Linked DNA regions of Homo sapiens: region 1 is linked to region 2. The links come from fine-mapping of genetic effects on gene expression. Tissue or cell type: blood mononuclear cells. Region 2 holds a variant in brackets; the other region holds the start of a gene. All regions are shown on one strand. Distances are between the middles of the regions.

Evidence for each region. PIP is the estimated chance that this variant, and not a neighbour inherited with it, causes the effect.
Region 1: it holds the start of PCID2, and the variant in region 2 is fine-mapped to the expression of PCID2 in blood mononuclear cells (TOPMed, PIP above 0.99).

What each region holds. Positions count from the first base shown.
Region 1 is chr13:113,204,291-113,212,393 of GRCh38, forward strand. PCID2 (PCI domain containing 2) reads right to left here and starts at 4,379. Exons shown (of 14, transcript NM_001127202.4): 1 at 4,309-4,379. The coding sequence starts at 4,344. It overlaps CUL4A (cullin 4A), which reads left to right and starts at 5,323. Exons shown (of 20, transcript NM_001008895.4): 1 at 5,323-5,485; 2 at 5,683-5,798. The coding sequence starts at 5,338. RefSeq lists enhancers at 3,434-4,084, 4,085-4,734 and silencers at 4,269-4,558, 4,819-5,088, 5,189-5,518, 5,579-5,818.
Region 2 is chr13:113,172,954-113,181,056 of GRCh38, forward strand. It overlaps PCID2 (PCI domain containing 2), which reads right to left. Exons shown (of 14, transcript NM_001127202.4): 11 at 7,205-7,278; 12 at 6,964-7,089; 13 at 6,013-6,136; 14 at 4,583-5,334. The coding sequence ends at 5,245. Among named protein-coding and RNA genes, the nearest start is that of PROZ, 18 kb to the left of the region's middle. RefSeq lists an enhancer at 1-332. The variant G/C (reference allele first, on the strand shown) is at 3,636.

The DNA of each region.
Region 1 (8,103 bases), 31 kb after region 2:
CTGCAGAAGGAACCTATGAGTGACTGAAAGCTGAGAGTCCCAGACTTGGAGCAAGCACTGTGGAATGGAAGCATACTTCAATGACTAAACACACTGGGGACACAGTGGTCACGAAGGGATCAAACCCTGGAGTACAGACACCGGGGCCCTCCAAGGAGAGGCGGAGACCCCTGCTGGGGGCACTCACTGGTAGCCCTCCTTTGCCTGTGACCTCCCAGGGTGGTCCCTGCACATATGCAGGGTGATGTCGCCACATCCTGGGCTCTGCTTGGCCACACCTACCTGGGCTGCACCCAGTGTCCCACGGGTGACCTGACCAGAGGAGGGCTCAGTGCCACAGGGCCTTGAGCCCAAGGAGGGCCCCAGCTTGCTTGGCAGGCATGAATGTGTCCCAGGGGTGGTCCTATCAATGCCCCTGCCTCAATGACTAAACTGTGAGAAGACTGGGGATGTGAAGAGGAAAAGCAGGGATGGCAACGGACGGTACTTGCAAGCCCTAAAGGTGCGACTGGCGCCGCAGTGGACACAGGACCCCTAGCAGCCCAGCCACCTGGCCAACTCTTAACAGCTCATGCTGCAGAGCCTTCAGCCCTCAATGGGACCACACAACCAGACTCCAAGTGAGCACCTTCTGAGCGGCACCCCCAGGCCTGGCTCACCAGGGGATGCTCCCTGGCTCTGGCCCCAGGAAGACTTCCTTGTGGTTGCTGCATGCCCCTCACGCCCTCCAGTCTGGTCCACAGGAGGCACCATCTACTCTTGGAACTCATAACTCTTTTAAAAATTCAAAATCATTACAGGTCATGAACCTCTGAAGTCACTTCTGAATAGTCAAACTTTCCAATTCCATAAACTCTTGAAAGACAATATGAAGAACTACTGAAGATTAAGGAGTAAAGTATCTAACTCAAAGCTGATTCCCTAAATAAAGATGTTCACTACACCTGTAAAAAAGAGAGGTGTTCTTGGCAAAAGGAACATAATGAAGAAAATCTTTGGGACAAGAAAGATCATGGGGTGCCACAAGAAGATACCACTCCGCACCCAGCAGGATGGCCATAATAAAAAGAATGGAAAAAAACAAGCATTGACAAGAAAGTGAAGAAATTGCAACCCTCATACATTGCTGGTGAAAATGTAAAATGATGCAGCTAGCTGCTTTGGCATTTCTTTAACAAGTTAAACACAGAATTACCATATGACTCAGCAATTCCACTCTTAGGTATATGCCAAAAAGAATACAAAACCTGCGCAAGAATGTTCACAGCAGCAGCACAACAGCCAAAAAGAGGAAACAACTGAAGTGGTCCATCAACTGATGAATGGATAAACAAAATACTCCATACAATGGAATATCATTAGCCATAAAAAAGAACGACACACTGACACATGTTCCAACACAGATGAACCCTGAAAACATGATGCAAGGGAAAGACACACAAAAGCCACATACTGAAATCACCAGAGTCAGCAAATCCATACAGACAGAGAGCACATTAGCGGTTGACAAGCGCTCGGGAGGGAGGACCAGGGAGTGACTGCTTAATGCTTATGACATTTCCATTTGGGGTGACAAAAAATTCTGGATAATGGTGATGGTTGTGCAATATTGTGAATGTACTTAATTGTGTACTTTAAAATGGTTAAATGGTATATTTTAAGTTATGAGTACTTCGGTGGGGCAATGGTGCATTCAGCATAAGTGAAATAAACCTTCAGACTGGTGATGCCAAGTTAACAGGTAAACATGGACCAGATGATGTGCTAAAGCATTTGGAACTTTCCCTGGAGGAAACAGAGAGTCAATGAAGTTTTAGTAACAGAGGCAGATGCTCAACTCTTCTTCAATAAAATACCAGAACTATCATTTACTAAGTAAATGCATTTACTGTGAATTCATGGTCTTTTTAATTCTCACAACTTATGTGAAGCCTGTTTAGAGATGGAGAGTCACAGAAGTTAGATAACTTGTCATGGTCCCAGAATTAGTAAAAATGCCAGGATTTGGGCTGAAGTCTTATTGTCTTTAAAGTCTATGGTCTCTTTGCTGTGTCTCACTTGGAAAGGGCAAAGTAAAGGAAACCATCAACCAGTACCTGCAGCAGGGCGTCCTGGCTGGGGAGCATGTGGCAACAGATAAAGAAGGGATGGATCTGAGAGACTTCGGAGATACATCCAATTAGGTAAAGGACTATTTGCTGAGACTAAAGGAGGAGTCAATGATTTCCCCCAACTTCCTAGCTTTGATGAATGTGCAAATGATGGTTTTATTCCCAAAGAGATACAGTGACATTGGCACTTATGTTCCTATACAACAAATCAAACATGTGTTACCATGTATAACCGGTTGCCATTCTGTATCGAAGAGGCACCTATTTTCTTAAAATATTCAAGAATCTGTTAATACATAAAACTTAGGTAACATGCCAGTTCAACCAGAAATATTTTTATCCATCAGAATTAGGAGGAAGCGGACTTTTTGCTGTCTCACCCCAGTGGCTACACTGCCCTTTGCGGAGATGTAGGCATGCACATCTCCATAGAAGTCCATCCTGGGCCCAGCCCCTGTCTACTCTCTCTACTTGTTCCCTGGGTCACCCCTTCCCTTCTCAGTCTTTCCCATCATGTGACTACGAAGGAGTCTCAGGTTTGTATCTTTAACCCAAATCTGTCTGTTTAAACTTCAGTTTACACACATAGAGTAGAAGCTCGCTTATCAGTCTCACTTTAACTGACTTGAATTGGAAAAATGACTCTCTCCAATCCCTCCCTGAAATACACGAGCTGATGCCCAAGGTATGATGACGACTTTCAGCAAGTAGGCTTCACTCTAATACATCGCAAGCTTTTGCCAGCTAAGTTGTATGTGTTCTCATATCCAGATGTGTTTGTTCTCAAATCTATTTTTGCTACCCGAACCTGTTATGGTAGTTATGTACTTTTAAGCTCATCAATGAAATATGAATGCAAAAGGAAACAGTTGTTTCTCTATAAGCTAAGTTGTATGTTTTTAAAAGGCTCACTTGAGTTTGTTAAAAAAATAATTAGGTATGGGGGAAAAATTGTAAAAGATTAAGAAAATTCTAAAGATAATCGTATCAAATTGGTTCTTAAATGCCTATATCCTTGTTTAACTTTAAATAAACTGATATTGGAAAATGTTAAGTCTGCTAAGATTAGGCCAAAACAGACACAGCCTAAAGAAAAGGCCCTGGGCTTACATCAAAAGATTGGCAAGTATAGAACTTGAGGTAAGTGGTGTAAAAAAAAAATTGGCAAGTGAATGTATACTTTCATGTTTTAAGTTAAAAACATACATCCATTTCTTCGTGATTCCTGTTTTAACCAGTTTTCTCAATTAACCAAGCAACTGCTGGGCCCAATCATGTCAGACTTTTCAGCTATCAAGTACGTATCTTTACCCAGTTGTCAACAGACACCTCAAACTCAACATGCCCAAAACTTTATTTCTCCCTCCAAATCCACTCTATTCATCTTTTTCCCAGATTACAAGCCTGGGAATCATTCTTAACTCCTCCGTGTCCCTCAGCCCACCCATTCTTATTCACCACGTCTTGGTAATGTTTCCTTCAAATATTTTAAAAATCCATTCCCTATATTTCCTATCCCTGTTACCACAGTGCTGGTTCTGAAGACAGGCATAGTTTAGTGGAAAGAATATGCGTTGAATCTTTACAAGTGTCCATCTTTTAACTGTGCTTCTGCTACTTACAAGCTGTTGAACAACATCTGTCAGACGCATGTACCGAGCGATATGAAGTGTGCATTGTGCTCGGAGAGTGAAGGGCGTTAAACGACAGCGAGGACGAGGGGCACGAGCCCGGCCTGCAGCACGGCCACAGCCTCGCGCTTACTCCTCCATCGCCTCCTGGAGTCCCCGAATTCATCCCGCATCCTGCTGGGAAACAGCGTCCATCCGACACAGCACCGCCCACAGCGGGCCCTCGGCGTGGCCCGCAGGCCCTTCGGACCGCCTGGGAGCGCGGCCACACGTGCCAGCAAGTGAGGGCAGCGACCTGGGACCGCCGCGTCTACTTACACCGCGACGACTCCGCGATCCACGGACACCGCCCGGCCCCCACGGCGGCCCTGCAGGGGAGAACTCGGGCCGCCTTCCCGAGTCCCGGCCGCCGCTGTTCGGCTCGCGCGGCTGCCCGCCGGGGACCCGAACGGAAGAAGGGTGGCGAGGCGGGAAAGGAAAAGGCCTGAGGGTCCAAGGCAGGAGGGGACACACGGAACACGCCGAGGGCCAACCACGCCGCCGCGCGCTCCCCGGCTAGGACCCACCTGCTGCAGGTACTGGTTAATGGTAATGTGCGCCATGGGAGCGCCGCCGAACGGAGAGCGCCACCCCCTACGCCTCAAGCGGGCCAGCTGGCGTCACTTCCGGCCCTCGGTCCGTCTGGGTCCTGGCGCCCCCGGCCCCGCCGCGGGTGCGCAGGTTGGTTCCGGAGGGAGAACCTGGGGACCGGCTCGGCGACGCGCTCGGGCTGAGGGGGCCCGGGGTCTTTCTGCCGGGGCCCCGTCCTCTCAGCCGGGACGCCAGCGGCTCTGATTGTGTGTTCGGGCCCGCCCGGGCTGAGGGGTTTGGGGTCCAGTGGCGAGGACAGCCCCACGGCTAAACTGCCTTTCACTGCGCTGACCCTTCGTCTGCCCCTTGTGAAAACCAGGCCGCGGAGGACCCTCCGCGCCTGGCTGGGCCAGGGCCTCGGGGCGCGCGCGCCCGAGGAGGGGGAGGGGGAGGGACATGGCGCGCGCTCCCGAGCTCTCATAAGGTGCCTCCGCCGCGCGCTCCCGAGCCTGCAGGAGTTAGGGCACGTCCCGGCGCGCACCCCTGAGCCCTCGAGGTGGTCTCACGCCCGGGGTGGGGGTGCCGAGCCCTCAGGAGGCGCGCGCCCCGGGGCCCTCAGGAGGGTGTCCCGGCTCCCGATCCCCTCAGGAGGGGTGCCCGCGGCACGCATCCCCGAGCCAGGAGGGGGTGCCCGGAGCCCTGGGGGCAGGGTCTCGGTGCGCCCCCCGGAGCCGGGGGTGAGGGTCCCGATCCCTCAGGACGGGAGTCCCGGCGCGCGCCCTCGAGCCAGGAGGGGGTGTCCGAATCTCTTAGGGGGAGTCCGATCCCTCAGGAGGGATTCCCGGCGCGCGTTCCTAAGCCCTCAGGAGTAGCCGGGCGCGGCGGCGGTTGGGCTCGGGCACGCGGGCGGGGCGGGGCGGGGCGCGCGAGGAGGACGGGGCGGAGGCCGCGCGGACCGGGGCGGGCGGAGCGGAGCTCGGCGGGCGGCGGCGCTCGGGGCGGGGCGCGGCGGTTCCGGCCCAGCCATGGCGGACGAGGCCCCGCGGAAGGGCAGCTTCTCGGCGCTCGTGGGCCGCACCAACGGCCTCACCAAGCCCGCGGCCCTGGCCGCCGCGCCCGCCAAGCCGGGGGGCGCGGGCGGCTCCAAGAAGCTGGTCATCAAGAACTTCCGAGGTGGGTGCGGCGGCCGGGTCGAGGGCCAGGCGCCCCGGGCGGGGACCCCACGAGACCCCGCCCGACTTGGGGGGAAGGCCCCGAGATCCGTGCGGGCCCCGGGAGCGGGGGCGCCGGGGCGCCGGCCGGGTCGGGGGTGGCTACGCGGGGCGCTTCGCGGCGCGCCCTGAGCCGCCCGCTCTCCCTCCGCCCTGCAGACAGACCTCGGCTGCCCGACAACTACACGCAGGACACGTGGCGGAAGCTGCACGAGGCGGTGCGGGCCGTGCAGAGCAGCACCTCCATCAGGTACAACCTCGAGGAGCTCTACCAGGTGAGGCGGCGGCCGGGGCTGGGGACGCCGCTCCTGCCCCGCGTGACGCAGACGCGGCCGGGCGGCCGCTCCGGGTGCCTCGCAGGCTCTCGCCGGGGAGCGGAAAGGCAGGGCGTTTGCCTCCACTGCAGGGCCGGGAGCCCCAGAGGCAACAAGTGGTTTTGTTTATTGCCGTGGTGGAATTTTTGTTTTCAGGCTTAAGCTGCTTAGAACCATATTTAAAGTTATCCCATTACGGAAGAGAAGGAGGTGTGTTTCTAGGAGCCACGTGACTCATATTTTGCAAGTATACGGCAAATTATTTTCTCGTTATATGTAAAACTCATGACTGTGTCACTTGCCACAGTAATAAGAGGGTCTTTTCTCTGTTGTGTTTTGTGATTAATGGTTGCCTTTAAGATATTCAAACAGATTTTGAAAAAATTCAAAATTCAGAAAAAGTGGTTTTGTTCTCTGTTGTGTTTTGTGATTAGTGGTTGCCTTTAAGGTATTCAAACAGATTTGGTAGCATTTAATTCAAAGTGATGGTGTTCCGTTTCTGAAGTAACAAAAAAGTACATTTTACCATACTTGGATATTTTATTTATAAGCGACTTTTTTTCTGGTGTCTTCTTTTTGTAAAGTAACATTCATTCAGTAGTCTAATATCTATATTTTAGGTCACGATGTGTCATACAATTATTTCTATTAAAAGGCTTGAATTAAAAAAACTTTTTTTCTGGATATGCAAGTGACTGCATTGTAAAAATTATAAAAAATACAAAAAAGAAGACTTCAATCACCTATACTCCTACCACCCAAAGAAAACTACTGTTGACAGTTTGGTGTACATACATCCATTCTTTGTCTGAAGTGTAAGTGGATGATGTTTTCTTACCAGCTTTGAGATAGAGTCTACATATAATGTGCACTTCAGGAAGTTTTAACAGATGCATGCAGTTACGTAACCGGCACCACGGTCAAGATGGAATCTTTCTTGGTAGAATGGTAGAATATTGCTACCACCCCCGAAATTGCCATGACCACTTTTGCAGTCAGCCCTCTCCCCTGACTCCTAGCCCTTGGCGGTCCCCCATTTGCTTTCTGTTACTATATTTTGCGATTTCTAGAACCTTATCTAAATGCAGTCATGTATTTCATAGTCTTTTGTATCTGGCTTTCACTTAGGACAGTGCTTTTGAGATTCATGCACAACGCAGTGTGATTGTAATTTATTACCTAGTAGAATGGGTATACCACAGTTGTTTTATCCATTCACCAGTTAATGGACATTTGGGTGTCCATGTTTGGGGTTTTTTGTTTGTTTGTTCTTTGAGACGGAGTTTCACTCTTGTGGCCCAGGCTGGAGTGCCATGGCACGATCTTGGCTCACTGCAACCTCCACCTCGCAGGTTCAAGCGATTCTCCTGCCTCAGCCTCCCGAGTCGCTGGGATTACAGGCACCTGCCACCACGCCTGGCTAATTTTTGTATTTTTAGTAGAGTCGGGGTTTCGCCATGTTGGGCAGGCTGGTCTCAAACTCCTGACCTCAGGTGATCCACCCACCTCGGTCTCTCAAAGTGCTGGGTTTACCAGCATAAGCCACCGCGCCTGGCCTTGGGTTGTTTTAAATAAAGCTGCTGTAAACATTTGTGAATAACCCTTTGTTTGGACATATATTCTTACTCCTCTCAGGTGAGTTCTGCTTACTTCTTTATCTAGAAGTAAGTTCTCAGGGTCATATGGAAAATGTATGTTTAACTTTGTACGGAATTTCTTGTTTTTGCAAGTGACTGCCCCTTTTGCGTCTCTCCCAGCAGTGTATGGGAGCTCCGGTTCCACTCCGCCACCAGCGTGTGCGTCTCTCCCAGCAGTGTATGGGAGCTCCAGTTCCACTCCGCCACCAGCGTGTGGTGTCCTCAGTCTGTAACTTTAGCTGTGCTTGTGGGTGTGTGGTGGAGTGTCATTGTAGTTTTAGTTTGCATTTCCCTCTGATGCTAAGCATCTTTGTATTTACTTGCCATTCTATGTATCTTCGTTGACGAAGTGTCTATTTAAATATTTTGCTCATTTTTATTGGGTTGGTTATTTTCTTATTATTGAGTATTTGAGTTTATTATGTATTCTGGATACAAGTCCTGTATCAGATATTCGCCTTGCAAATACTTTCTGCCTAGTCTTCAACTTGTCTTTTGATTCTCTTAACTGTGCCATTTGAAGAGTAATTGTTTTAAGTTTTCAAGTCACATGTATCAGTTTGTTCTTCTATGGATTGTGCTTTTAGTATCCAAGAAATCTTGCTTAATCTGAGGTCACAAAGTTTTCT
Region 2 (8,103 bases):
GGAACTTACCCCAAGATGATGATATGGGGAGGTGGGGCCCTTGGGAGGTGACTAGGCCATGAGGGCTCTGCCAGCCCCTTCCATCTCTTCTCCCATACGAGGACACTGCAGTGAGGTGCTACCCTGGAGACAGAGAGCCCTCAGCAGACACCAAATCTGCCGGCACCCAGATCTTGAACTTCCCAGCCCCCAGATCTGTGAGAAATGAGTTTCTGTTATCACCCAGTCCATGGTATTTTGTAGAACAGACCAGGACAGCACGTGCTGAATCACAGTAAACACCTGCTGTCATGAAGGCTGCAGCTGCAATGCAAGTACCAAAGACAGAGCTGCAGTCCAGCCCCCAGTGAAACGTCCTTGGAGACTGGAGCTCCTAGCAGGGTCTGAATTTGCACTGAAATGGACAGAAATGGCATAAATGTTCACATTTTAACTCTTAGTTAAGGAAGGGGCACAGCTGCTTCTCCACCAGTGTCCTTGAGTGACACAGAGCAGAGCATCGTTGAAGAGCAGAGAGGACTTTTAAAAAGAGGAATTAAAAATGTAGGTGGACAAATATTCTCTTGAGTTGAGAACAATTTACACATAACTTGGGTTTTTAAGCCTTACTGTTCTTCAGCACACTCTCTTTCATTTACGCTTTAACCCCAGAATTAAACTTTTCTCCAACCTGTAGATGAAATGGCCCATTTCTCTGAAAGGTCCTTGGCAAAAAGCAACACTGTAATTTAAGGCAAATTAATGGGGAGGGCAGTTTAAAATTCACTAGGGTGAATTTTAAAGTCTTAGTGAAGTTTGGTTGTATTATTCTCAAACTACAATAAGGTAAGTAAGTCACTGCTTTAAATGCCTACTAATGATTTTAAAATCAGCTAATGAACATGGCAGGCTTTCTGTACATAATGCTGCAGAAATGTCTGCAATCTTGCTTCTGGTACTTCTATTACAAATTTGGATTTACTAGAGTGGAAGCCCTGCTTGAAAACTATTCCAGTCCAGGCGCAGTAGCTCACGCCCGTAATCCCAGCACTTTGGGAGGCTGAGGCGGGCGGATCACGAGGTCAGGAGTTCGAGACCAGCCTGACCAACATGGTGAAACTCCATCTCTACTAAAAATACAAAAAAAAAAAAAATCTTTGCCAAGCGTGGTGGCTCACGCCTGTAATCCCAGCTACTGAGGAGGCTGAGGCAGGAGAATCACTTGAACCCGGGAGGCAGAGGTTGCAGTAAACCGAGATCATGCCACTGCACTCCAGCCTGGGCAACAGAGCGAGACTCCATCTCAAAAAAAAAAAAAAACCTACTTCAAACACAGCTGGGCAGAGGCAAAGCATATGAAGACCCTCCCTCCGTAATGGTGAAATCTGTGAAATCAGGAACAATCAGAGAAAGCTACAGGCCCAGACTGTCAGCAGAGACATGAGGGGCCTTCAAAATGAAGTAACTACTCTACTGGCATTTAATGACATGCTTAGAAACTACACCATAAACAAATCTAACAAAACAGTAAAACTCAAGAAAAGGGAAGCTAGCTATGATGACTGTTTTTCTTGTTTTTTGAGACAGGGTCTCTGTCTGCCACCCAAGGCTGGAGTGCAGGGCACGATCCTAGCTCATAGTGGGCTCAACTTCCTGGGCTCAATTGACCCTCCCACCTCAGCCTCCTGACTACAGGTGTGGACCACCATGCCCAGCTAATTTTTGTATTTTCTGCAGAGATGGATTTTGCCATATTGCCCAGGCTGGTCTCGAACTCCAGGGCTCAAGCAATCTACTGGCCTCAGCCTCCCAAAGTGCTGGTATCATAAATGTGAGCCACCACGTCCAGCCTGTGATGATGTTTTAAAAGGGCCAAACTAGTTCACACTTGGGCAGAGATTATTAAGTCCAATATTTGAATCCATGCAAACACACTGATACATGCCCATGTGTACGCCCGTGGACTTGAATGCTGCCATGCTGGACACAGGCCTTGACTTTGCGTCTCCACCCAAATTCCATCTTGAATTGTAATCCCCACGTGTGGAGAAGTGATTGGATCACGGGGGCGGCTCCCCCACGCTGTTCTCGTGACAGTGAGGGCGTCTAACGAGAGCTGATGGTTTTAAAAGTGGCAGTTTTGCTCATGCTCACTTCCCCTTCCGCCATGATTGTAAGTTTCCTGAGGTCCCCCGAGTCATGTGGAACTGTGAGTCCATTAAACCTCTTTCCTTTACATATTACCCAGTCTCGGGCAGTTCTTTATAGCAGCGTGAGAACGAACTGACAGAGGCCTGAACACCAAGAGGTAAACGTAAGGACACCTACACTGAGGTTGTTTCTTTCATCGCTAAGAATAACCATCCAATTACCTTAAAGTATCAATCCTTGACTTTAGGTGTCACTATGGACGGTTCAATACGTTACCCAGAAATGTTGACAAACCTGAGCTTTCCACCGCTATTACATCCAGAATGAAATTCAGGTATGCTGGCAGAAATTCCAATATTCAAATTACTGCAAGAAAATCATTTAAGTCAAAAGTTGAAGGATGTTCAAGGCCCATGCAGAGCAGCAGGGAAGATCAGATTTCCGTACCCAACACTGCAAGAGAACGGGGCCCCACTGGACACATGGGTAGCTAGAAAACAGATGCGCGCCCAAAGCCTCCGCCGGCATGAGTTTGCTCCGTGTCTGCCCCACAGGACATAGGAGGCACTTGTCACGACTGCCAGCGCTGAGGACCTTGCTGCTGCTGGGGAGCAGCTACGTAGGTCAAGAGGATCCTTGGCATGAACTCCACAGGCACAGGCGCTTGCCTTCGTGCATTCATCTCTCGCGTGTACGTGTGGCAGTCCACGGCTGGAATCCGGGTGTGACTTAGGAGAGCAGGGCATAAAAGAGATCTGGCTTCCCTGGCTCTACTGGGATCTGCGCTCCCAGAATCCAGCTCCCTACGTGTGGAGAGAAACAGGGGAGCCCACCCACAGCCCTGCTGAGCTCCAGGTGAGAGCCCGGGCCAATACACGGGAATGAGTCACCTTCAAAGAGGCCCATTCGGGCCCCAGAAGAGCCCACAAGCTTCCCCGCCCAGCCCGGAAGAAACTGCAGACCTGCAGATGTAGGAGCGAGCTAAGGAGTGCTGCTGAAGCCCTGGGGCAGCTCCTGCATCCAGGGGAACCTGAGGAAGGAGCCACACAAAGTGAGTCCTGCGCCGCGCGGCCCGGAGAGAGAGAAAGAGGGATTCACACTTTGTAGAATAGCCTCTCCTTGAACAAGCAGCTTTCAAATGCAGTAACTTTGCAAAGATGAGCTCTTATAGTTTGTGTTCTTCTTTAGTAAATTTTTTATAAACGGGGAAATGTGCATAGTCTGAAAAATGGCAGTGCTGGGGACTAAACTGTGTCCCCCAAATTTCTTACATTGAAGTCCTAGCCCCAGTGTGACTGTATCTGGAGGTAAGGTCTTCAGGGGGTAACTAAGGCTAAATGTGGTCATAAGGGTGAGGTCCTAACCCAACAGAACTGTGGCCTTATAAGAGGAAGAGAGCCGGGTGTGGTGGCACATGCCTGTCACCCCAGCACTTTGGGAGGCCGAGGTGGGGGAATTGCTTTAGCCCAGGCGTTCCAGACCAGCCTGTGCAATATTAGCAAGAC[G/C]CTGTCTCTACAAAAAATAAAAAAATTAGTTGGGTGTGGTGGCATGCACCTGTGCTCCCAGCTACTTGGGAGGCTGAGGAGGGAAGATCACTTGAGTCTCGGAGGTCGAGGCTGCAGTAAGCACTGACTGCACTGCCGCACTCCAGCCTGGGTGACAGAGTGAGGTCCTGTCTCAAAAAAGGAGGGAGAGAGTCATCTCTATCTGTACCATCTCTAGCACAGCAAGAATACCACCTTATTCTTAAGTGTGCAACTCAGAAGAGAGCCCTCCCCAGAAGCCGACCGTGCTGGCAACCCCATCTCAGTCAGACCTCCAGCCTCTAGAACTGTGAGGAAATACATTCCTGTTGCTTAAGCTGCCTGTGGTATTCTGTGATGGCAGCCCCAACAGCCCAATGTGAGTGGCCCAACTTAGCGACTGTCAACCTCGCCGTGGTGCCGAAGGGACGCGCTCAGGGGCAGCCATGCCTCAGCGTCCACGCAGCCCTTCAGTTTCCACTCTCAGTGTAGCACTCGGTAAGCTACACGAGGTATTTACACTTTTATTTTTATTTATTTATTTTTTTGAGACAGAGTTTCGCTCTTGTTGCCCAGGCTGGAGTGCAATGGCATGATCTCGGCTCACTGCAACCTTTGCCTCCCGGGTTCAAGCGATTCTCCTGCCTCAGCCTCCTGAGTAGCTGGAATTACAGGTATGCGCCACCACGCCCGGCTAATTTTGTATTTTTAGTAGAGACGGGGTTTCTCCATGTTGGTCAGGCTGGTCTCCAACTCTCAATCTCAGGTGATCTGCCTGCCTTGGCCTCTGAAAGTGCTGGGATTACAGGCGTGAGCCACCACGCCCGGCATCTACACTTTATTATAAAATAAAATCGGCTTTGTGTTTGATTTTGCCTAAGAGTGGAGGCTTCTGAGTATGTTAAGGAAGGCTAGAGTGAGCCATAATGTTTAGTAGCAGGTGTATTAAATGTATTTTCAATTTAAGATGGTTTTTTAAAAGAAATTTTTTTTTAACCAACAAAGCAAAGGCAAATAAAATAAGTTTATTGGGATGTAACCCTATCATAAATTGAGGAGCATCCATACAGGCAAGCTATAAAATCTGGAAAATTTAAATCAAATTAAATTCTGCTTTTAAAAAGGTGCCTTAAGTTAACCAAGCATTTTGATAACACATTCAAATTTAATATATAAAAATAGATGTATCCTGGAAGATATAATGAAGAACATGCCATGTGTATAAATTCAGAATACGCTTTTTACACAAAGAACTACAAAAAGTTACAAAGACAGCCTTCAGGAACCACACTTAGGAAAAGTGAGCCGAGCAGCCTTCACGCAAAGCCTCCTTCAAAGAAGTCTCACAAAGACTCCAGAACCAGCCGAGTCTGTGAAAAAGGAATTCCAGGTTTTCATCAGGCTGAAATTAGTTACAAATGAAGGAGATTAACTCGGGTGTGCTGAAAATCTCAGCCTCAGCATCCCTGGGAAAAGCGCCTCCAAGAGTTCCGGCTTCAGGGAGCCTTGTTGCAGTACCGGACCGGTCTCATCAGCACAACCAAAGTGGAAAGAAACAACTGCTCACCCGTCCTCGGGGCTCCGTGTACTTTCAACACACCGTGGACAGGGGAGGAAATGGGTTCTGCTTGCTGACCACCAGCTTCTGATGCTGATGCGATATGTAGCCTTTGACGTGTCCCTGCGGGGCAGAAAGGGAGGAATGCGTTTACATTTTTGGATCTGAGTCATGTCAAAGATGCTGGGTGATCTAATTAATTTGGCATTAGCATTCTTCCCCAAGAGCGGCACAGTTCAGTTCAGCGGGAAGACAATGAGTAAAAATAAATACAATCAACCCTCTATATCCACGGTGGGTTTCATATCCATGAATCTAACCAACTGTGGACTGAAAATATTTGGGGAAAAAAAATGCATCTGTAATGAACACGTACAGACGCTCTTCCCTTGCCGTGATTCCCTAAACAATACAGTACAACAGCTATCTACAGTGCACTGAGTATTTTAAGTAACCTAGAGATAATTTAAAGTATACAGGAGGACGTGCATAGCTCATATGCAAATACTACGTCCTATCAGTGACTGAAGCACCTGTGGATTTTGGTATCCGAGGGGGGTTGGAGAATCGACAGATACCGAGGGATGTACCGCCAGTAAAGAATATGCAAACATACAAGAGTATCCGTCCCCTCATGCTCCTAAGGCCCTGGTGAATGGTATTTCCTGGGCTAAAATTAGTTCTATCAAAAAAAAAGCAGAAGGCCTTTTAACAATTTTAACACCACCACACTGAAGCTTCAAATTCTGGGCTGAATCTTGCTGTGAGTAGCTGCTTAAATTAAAACCAGGACTCACACACCATGTATATCAAGTTAGCCAGAATACACTGAACTTCGTCAATGTCCACGTCCTCCACCTGCATGAACTTCAAGGCAACCAGAAAAGCATCCAGAGACAGCTGGTGTGTTTTCAGTAACAAATACCTGGAAGAGGGGAGGAGAAGGGCACTGTGGTTACCGACAGGATGCAATACTCCACAGCCAAGAAAAGGCACCTCTTAATAAGCCGGTGTTCTAAAGGAGTAAAAAAATTCCCACCTATTAGATAAACTCTAAACTACACTCTCAGAGCTATTAAATCTAATTTGACTTTTCAATCTTTAAAAAGTCACTAGTACAAACACAATTTTTAATTATTTTCTAAGTATTTCATTAAGGTTCGGTTTTTTTTTTCACATTTTAATCTCCCTGAAATCAGGAAGCACCTGACAATGGGCTGTGTCTCACAGACTCAGCGAAATAGGGTCCCTACTGTTTGTGACGTGCTACCCACAGCTCTATACAAAGTTGGCCTTTGCCTGAAGTTTACACAACTGAGATCCTGCTGGGACGAGGCCTCAGAAGACGTGTGAGGAAAGGAATGACGATCTCTGCATCTGCCTTTGTGACAGGCAGAAGTGGCTGGGAGGGCTACTTGGTCAGCACTAAGGGAGGGGAGTGAGTGGCGAGTCCTGTGTGCTCTGATGAAATGTGGTACCGCGGCTCTCAGGGCTGATGTTCTCAAGTTGTCTTCTCACATAGAACCTGCTTACCTCCCCCACAAGTCCAGGCACAGCTTGTGCTACTCACGTGTCTCGCGCAGGGTCCCCAGGAGGCAGTGGGCGGAGGCTTCATTTTATCCCACACAATGGAAGGAAGATAACGACCCCACCCACACGGTGGCCTTCTCTCTTAGACTGCAACAGCCCTGGATGTCTGACTGCTCTGCCGAGAGCCACACTGGGAGCCCAATGTGCCGGGGAAATGCTTACACTTTCTTAAAGAGGTTCCTGTAGGTGATGATCTTCAGCTTCTCCAGGATGAGGAAGATTCCGCAGCGAATGAAGAAGGCCTCGTGCTTCGCCAGCGCCTCGTGCAGCAGCAGCAGGTTGCCCTCGCTGGTGAGGGGGGAGGCGCGTCAGAAGGAGGGTGAGTTTCTCACAGAGCGTGCACGTCAACTCTCATCAGGCTTGCATTTTTAAAACCCCAAACAGGAAGGATGGCATACTCTACCTCACAGCTCTGGTTACTTCCGCAAACTGCATCAGGTGATACTTTTTCAGGAGCTCCACAGTGGGCATGTGACCCTAAGAGTCAATTTTCCAGAATGAAAATGCTTTCATTTTTGACAAAATTGTCCTTGATAAATATTCATATCAAGGAATTAAGTTTTAAGAAAATTGCAACCTGAGTTTCTTAGAATGTCCATGGATTAAACACATCATAGTACACTAGGAAAACAACACAGGTCTAGAAATCAGAACACCTGGGTACAACACACTTTTGTCATTCCATGACACGTGACCTTGATCTTGACCTTCTCACATTTCTTCGAATTTCTATAACAGGAGAGTGATAACTGAAGAAATGCTAGTATAAGCATGAGATGTAGGCATACGGAAGTAGCTTCCAGAAGAATCAGCTAAGCATTTGAAACTGGCTGTCAGTTAAATGGGGTGAGAAGTGAGGAGGGCAAGGCCACAGCAGCGCTTCTCCATCACAATCCATTCAGAGCTACAGAAGCTTTAGCCACCTGTGTGCAATGCTTTTCTCATTAGTCAATTAACTTACCAGTTATTTCAAGTATCAAAAATACATTTTAGTAACTAAATGAAATACCCACAGAGAGGGTGAAATGACATTTTTCTTTCTTGGTGAATCCACTGCTTTTAACTTAGGTTTTAAGGGAGGAATACAAATGATACGTACTTATTTTGTCACATGAACGTTAAACTCTTGAGTTAAATACTTTTAAGGGAAACAAGACACAGGGAGAGCTTTTCTAGAAGGACCTGGAGGCGTAAGGCATGAAGCTCTGGGTTTGGGCCACACACAATGCATGCGCCTTCTTTATTTTGGGGTGTGCTCATACACAGCTCAGGCTGTGATCAACTACAGACTGTCTGCTAGGT